2 linked regions of the Homo sapiens genome follow. The protein of the gene in region 1 interacts with the protein of each later gene in a pairwise test. Each region holds a gene or a part of one and is shown in the gene's direction. Other genes may lie near its edges. The genes, in order: KRT85 and CREB5.

What was found.
Region 2: the proteins of KRT85 (region 1) and CREB5 interact in binary tests that used the Homo sapiens proteins (3 or more experiments, as listed by UniProt).

The regions. Positions count from the first base shown.
Region 1 is NC_000012.12:52,364,682-52,368,981, reverse strand, and holds the start of KRT85 (keratin, type II cuticular Hb5), read left to right. Parts: upstream 1-1,500; 5' UTR 1,501-1,576; coding exon 1,577-1,996; intron 1,997-3,811; coding exon 3,812-4,020; intron 4,021-4,300.
Region 2 is NC_000007.14:28,823,654-28,826,617, forward strand, and holds the end of CREB5 (cyclic AMP-responsive element-binding protein 5), read left to right. Parts: 3' UTR 1-2,241; downstream 2,242-2,964. UniProt on the Homo sapiens protein: Binds to the cAMP response element and activates transcription.

The DNA.
Region 1 (4,300 bases):
GCAGTTGCTTTTCCATGGATGATTATGATCTGCATATGTTCTAGGGTCAGCTGGTGAGACCACCTGCTCTTCCCCCACCAGCTGCCAAGGTCTCTCTACCCTGCCCTGAAGAACAATGTGGAATGTGGAGGTGAGGTGGGAATCGATCAGCCTGATCCTGGGTGAAGGTCCTGGGTGAGGTCAGCTGGCTGTGGAGATTAGAGCAGATGCAGGACAGAGTACAGGGCATTTCGTGAAGGACTTATGAGAACAGCAGCATGATGGCAGTGTTTGGTTATGGAAGGCTTCCTGGAGGAGGAGTCACCCTCTGAGGAAGCTCATCGGCTCTTCTTCCTTAAGTTCCTAACACTTGGGTGTCTGGCTAACCTTCCTGGGGGCAGACCCACATCCCCAAGGTTTGTACTCCATAAACATTAAAAGAATAGCACTTGTTATCCTAATAAGTGTCCCAAGGACACACAGGGAAGCAGAAACTAGAAGGATGGGGCTCCCAGAACCCCCAGGAGCCAGAAGTCATAGCCACCTTAGACAAGAATAAACCACTATCCCACTTCCAGCTTTGTGCAATGCAGTCTCTAAACACTCCTCTAGGGATGACAATTCAAGGGCTGGCCAACAGAAGGAATACCTCTTGTAGCTGGTGGTCTGGGAAGGGAGACTCACATGACCTGTTTCTTCTTAAAGAGCAAAGCAAAGGTGCCCACAGCAAATTTATAGCCCCCAGGTTATCCCAAGGTTGAGTTCTCCAATCCTTTTGACCGAATGGAAGAAAGTGGCTAGAGGGAGTCTCCCCATAATCCGCAAGTAGCCATTATTGTGGCCACTGAGAGTTCTGTGGTTTGCACTTTTGCTGGGTGAGAAGTGAAAGCTCTGGACCAGCGCCTTCTGGGCTGGAATCCAGAAGGTTCCAAGAGATCATCTGCCCCAGCCTTTTATCCTGGCACGGGCATGGTCAAAATGACCGCTCTGGTCCTGAACCACCTTCCAAGCAATGCTGCCTAGATGGGGTGGGATTCGCCTGACCTATTGGCCCCTGAAATGCAATGATTTACTTGAGAATGTGTCCTCTGTGGAACCAGATAGATGAATGCAATGATCCCCCAAGTCTCACCTAACCCAGGACCCTCCAACCTCTCCCTTGAGACAATGGCTCCTGCCTGTATCCCAAACCCAGCCACCCCCAGGCTGTTGTGGAGTTCAAATCCGTCTCCAAGTGTGGGTTGAGGCCATCTCACAGAAAGACTGTGAGAAAATTAATTACTTAATGTATGTAAACGAGCTTTGAAGATGAAAAGTTCAAATGCAGTCTCCTTAATAACATCTTCAAGACTTCAGGGAGCCCCAGAGTCGCTGCTGAGCTCACCTTTAAGATGAGTCCGTGGGGAGTTGCTGGCAAACTCCCCAAGCCCATAAACAACATAAAATGGCTTTCCACTCCTTTTATGCAGCCAACCCCAGCTCTCCCCACCAATAAAAGGACCAGGGAGGATCAGAGAGAGCAGAAGGATCCTGAGCCTCGCACTCTGCCGCCCGCACCACCTTCCGCTGCCTCTCAGACTCTGCTCAGCCTCACACGATGTCGTGCCGCTCCTACAGGATCAGCTCAGGATGCGGGGTCACCAGGAACTTCAGCTCCTGCTCAGCTGTGGCCCCCAAAACTGGCAACCGCTGCTGCATCAGCGCCGCCCCCTACCGAGGGGTGTCCTGCTACCGAGGGCTGACGGGCTTCGGCAGCCGCAGCCTCTGCAACCTGGGCTCCTGCGGGCCCCGGATAGCTGTAGGTGGCTTCCGAGCCGGCTCCTGCGGACGCAGCTTCGGCTACCGCTCCGGGGGCGTGTGCGGACCCAGCCCCCCATGCATCACTACCGTGTCGGTCAACGAGAGCCTCCTCACGCCCCTCAACCTGGAGATCGACCCCAACGCACAGTGCGTGAAGCAGGAGGAGAAGGAGCAGATCAAGTCCCTCAACAGCAGGTTCGCGGCCTTCATCGACAAGGTGGGTGAGGCCTGAGACGGCCCAGAGAAGCCTCCAGCCCTGTCCTCCCTTGGGGAGGTCCCAGTCTGCTGAGGAGACAGGATGGCTGCCGGTTTGAGGCAGCAGAGGGAATGACGTGCAGACCCATACAGGTGGAAGGGTCAGTTTCCATCACTTAACTCCCGCAGCATTTAACGAGGTCCAGGTGTGGTCTAGAAATTGAGCCTGTGATCCAAAGTGTGTGCATGTGTGTGTGTGTACATGTGTGTGTGTGTAGCGGTGTGTGCGCCTGTACGTATGTTAGTGTGTGGTGTGTATATGTGTGTGTGTACATGTGTGTGAGCATATGTGTGTGTATGCATGTGAGTGTGTACATGTGTGTGAGCGTGTGTGTGTTTCTTGAGCCAAGACGACATAGGACTATCAGAACTGTGTCTGAAAAACCAGACTGGGCAGCAGGTGCTGGAAGAGTGGGAGATAACGGGGAGACCAAAAGACCTTGTGGCTCCTAGCCAGGCAGCCCGTGAAGGGGCTGGGGTAATGCCCACAGCCATGCTGCCTCTCCCAAGTCCTTGCTGCATCACTCAGCAGTGTGAGACCCCAGGCAGGTTACTCTGCTGAATAACAGGACTGCCTCATCCACCTGTGAGGAATTAATGAGTCCATGCATGAAACATGATGGCAAATAGTCAGCACTCAATACATGTTAGCTGCTACTATCATTATTTTCCAAGGACAGTGGTAGGTGAGGAGGTGTGACAGCCAACCCAGGCCTGGCAGCCCCTTCATGAGAGAGGGCTGAAATGCAGACAGGGAGGTGGCCAGGCTGGTAGGAGGAGGCCCCCTAATGCAGCCAGAGTGTGGAGAACGCTGCATAGCTGTGAGGCTGCCTCCCAAGAAAGTTTTGTCGGGGGAGGCTGGGAGCCTCCTTCACAGGCTCCTCCTGTGTCCACAGGCCTCTAGCAGAGCAGAAGGAGCAGCTTTGGGGGCCTAGGATCAGGGTTTGGGGGCAGAGGCAGTCACCTTCACGTTTTCACTCTTTCTTTAGTGATCTGAGTCCATCCTCACAGTGACGGGTTGGAGTGGGTATCAGCGTCTCCACTTATCAGACAGCAACTTGGAGCTAAGGGGGTGTATACGAGCATCTCAGACATGCTGTAGGGGGAGGCAGAGCATGCCTATCTCAAGACTATCGCTTACCATGAGCTGGGCATTTCACACCTTGGGGGTCTCAATTTCCCCATGTGCAACATGGGGTAAGTAATATCTACATCCCACAGGGCTGTGATAATTGAATGGAATGCATAGTTAGATGATATAGACATAGACACAGACATTAGACATGGATGTGTATATCTTACCACAGGCCTTGGCACTAAGTAGTAAATATTTAATAAGTGTTTGTTGCATAAATGAGCAAGTGAAGGGCAACTGGTAATTATAATAATAGTTAAATAGACTGAGCATTTACTACGTGTCAGGGACTGTTCTAAGCACTTGATATGCATTAACTTGTTCAAGCTTCACAACAGTGCTAAGACAGACACTATTCGCTCCATTTTGGAAAGGAGAAAACTGAGCCCCAGGAGGTTAAACAACTTGCTCTCTAAAGTATCAAAACTGGGGCTCGAAACAGACCTTTGGCTTTGAGTCAGACTGCTTTCCCTCACACCCACAACTGCCTCCCTGGGGGCCTGGGAATGGGCCCCTTGAGCCGCAGACACTCAGCTTTATGGCTCAGCCCATTCAGCCAGCACCCGAGGGCAGAGAGACTGTGGGGGACCAGGTGCCTCCCCCCAGGCTCCCTCTGACTTCTTCTTTCCACCTGAATGGCAGGTGCGCTTCCTGGAGCAGCAGAACAAGCTGCTGGAGACCAAGTGGCAGTTCTACCAGAACCAGCGCTGCTGCGAGAGCAACCTGGAGCCACTGTTCAGTGGCTACATCGAGACTCTGCGGCGGGAGGCCGAGTGCGTGGAGGCCGACAGCGGGAGGCTGGCCTCAGAGCTCAACCATGTGCAGGAGGTGCTGGAGGGCTACAAGAAGAAGTGAGTGCAGCAAGCTGGGGGGACTCAGGGGAAACTCAGAGAGAATGCTGGGAGGCTCTGCCCATAGCCCTCTTGCCACAGCTTCTTTCAGATTCCTCTAGCAGGCTGCCTGGAACCCAGAGCAGATATCCAGTGGGGCCTAGATTTCTTCAGATTCCTGGGATTCACCTCTAAGACTCCACCCCTGTGAGCCTTAGAGCTACTTCTGGGGGAATGAAGAGAGGAAATCCAGTGGAATTCTAGCACTCTCTATGTCCCTGTCCTTCACAGCTTACCTTTA
Region 2 (2,964 bases), on another chromosome or scaffold:
AAGGGAATCAGTAACTCTAACTGGAACAGCTTTCTTGTAGAAGTGTAAAAACAGCTTCATCTCTGCCTCTCTCCACCCCACCCCAATTTCCTAGAAAGCCTTGCACTATTCAGCTCCCTTAGTGCTTTTTGTCCCTTCCCGAACAATATGCAGTAGCTTTAAGCCATTCAAGCTCCATTATGCAGTATATCTGAGAAGGGAAAGGAAACAACCCATTTAAATTTGAATAAAACCGTGCCTATGCGAACAGTAGCAATTTAGAATCTCTTTTCTGCTTTTAAAATAATTTATATTTAAAAATTGCACTTTAGCTTTTTGATCCCTTTGTATTTCTCTTATTCTCTTTCTAACCTCTTCTCTGTCCTCAAACTTGCCTTTGCTCTCCTTTACAATACCCCCCACCCCTCCTCCAAGGCTCTGAGCGGCATCATTTAAAATACTTTACAGATATTTGCACCAGGTACATTTATGTGCGTCCATTGGTAGCACAGCTGAGACCTGTGTCTCACATCAGCCTAGGTGAAGCCTACTACAAGAATGCCAAGGAGAAGAGCCAGTACACTATATGGTTTATACTCTTTATCCCTTTATTCATAGCATGTTTTTTAAAAATGTTATATTATGCAACAGATGTGAGGCAGCAGCTAAGCTATACTTAAGAATTTTCTCTCACCTTCCAAACCAAAGTGTCCTGAATAAGCCAGGAGACTTATTCTTTTGTGCACCCTGGTGCACATCTGACTGTTGTCCTAGCCATAGACTCTCTGAGGCCACTGAAAGAACAGTGGCCCTATCGATTTCATTCCTAGGTCTCAAAAATACAATGTTGCCTTGTAACATAATTAGGGACAGCACCTCTATTTCACAATTATAATCTAAGGTAGGATAAGACGACACAGCAGCAATAAACTTACAAGTAAAATTCAATACCAAAACAAACACAAAGAAATTTAAAAAACAAAAAACCTAGCTCATCATGTTGTGAAAATGAAAAAGTGAATGTCCATTCAAAATATTTTACTATTTCTTGTGGAGTTTTTCAGTGATGTAATGCTTGTAGCCAAATTGCTTAAAGAGTGTTTATATATTTTTTTCCTTATAAATTGTCTATTTTTTAAAAAAGCTATTTAACCACAGCTGAAGTGGGGGGTAAGGCCAAATTGCCAACACTTGTTAAAAGATTAATACTCTTAAGTGGCACTCTGATACCTTTCCAACTTGTCATCAGAAAGGAATCAATAATTACCAACTGTTGTATTTAGACCAACTTACAATATCTAGCTCATTAGAAGCCAGGATCTAGAAAGCTCCTTCTAAGCCATTTAAGATATTCTTACATTGAGCTTCATATTATAGAACTTTATAGGATTGGATATTTTACAATAGAATAATTTAGCCTCAGGACTGAGAATGTGGAAGCTGAATAAATTAGCTTTAAATACATCATTAAAATCTTATGCACAATAAGCTCATTAGATTCTAGTTTTCTCCTTTAGAATACCAATGCCACAGACACTACAGGAGATAATGAAAGGTATCAGTTGTGTTGAGTGGAGGGAGTTTAAGAGAAAGGACCCTTCCCAACCAGCAGCCAGTAGAAAATACAACCTACTCACCTTTTTCCCTTCTAAGTTCTGCTAAATCACATCTGCCTCATAGAGAAAGGAATGTTGCCTTTGAGAACTGTCTTGGAGAACAGATAAGCTTGAAATGTTCTCTCTAGAGAGGACATAGGGTTTGGGATCCTCTGAAAAGGCCCAGAAAAATAGCTCAGTTCAAATACAATGTTCTAGGACAATTGGAATATAAATATTGTCCAAAAATATAATTAAAAGAAAAAAGTTTAGCACTGTGTAAAGTAAGTGTTAACTGAGGAAGTCCCAAAAAGGTGCTGTCACTTTAAGTTCTGGACTTGGGGTTCTTTGTATTTGTAAACAGCAAAGCATTTGTGTTTGTTTGTCTATTTGTAAAGCAACCACCTTCCTTATTGGAAGGAGAAAAAAAGGGGTACATACATGTAAATACTTGCTGCAGCATTTAATATGTTTAATTTTGTGTTAAGCTTTTTGTTGCATCGTGAACACATTTATTGTTACCAATGGACAATGAGTTCATTAAGACTGTTCAACTAGGTCAGATTTTTACATCTCTTTCTAGCAAGAAGAGACAAGATTTTGTGCATTTGTACAAATGTTAATATCACTGCAATTCCAATATAATAAAGCACTCAAATGCAAATAATATATGTCACCTTTGTATGATGAAATTTGGGGTTGGGGGTAATGACATCTATTCCTCACATAGTCTTGTCAGAGGCATGTGAACCAGAGCAACTCCATCTTGAATAGGAGCTGGGTAAAATAAGGCTGAGACCTACTGGGCTGCATTCCCAGAAGGTTAAGGCATTCTAAGTCAGTGGATGAGATAGGTTGGCCCAAGATACAGGTCATAAAGACCTTTCTGATAAAACGGTTTGCAGTAATGAAGCCAGCTAAATCCCACCAAAACCAAGATGGTGACAAGAGTGACCTCTGGTCGTCCTCACTGCTACACTCCCACCAGCGCCATGACAGTTTACGAATGCCATGGCAACGACAGGAAGTTACCCTATATGGTCTAAAAAGGGGAGGCATGAATAATCCACCCCTTGTTTAGCATATCATCAAGAAATAACCACAAAAACGGGCAACCAGCAGCCCTCGGGGCTGCTCTGTCTATGGAGTAGCCATTCTTTCTTTCCTTTACTTTCTTAATAAACTTGCTTTCACTTTACGGATTTGCCCTGAATTCTTTCTTGCAGGAGCTCAAGAACCCACTCTTGGGGTCTGGACCGGGACCCCTTTCCGATAACAGTCTCATTCATGACTTATAAACCAAGGCTTACCTTTTCAGGGTCACCATTATCTAGGGACAAAAGGAGATCAGATTTTCTCCTTCCCAGACCAGCACTACATTCCCACTGCC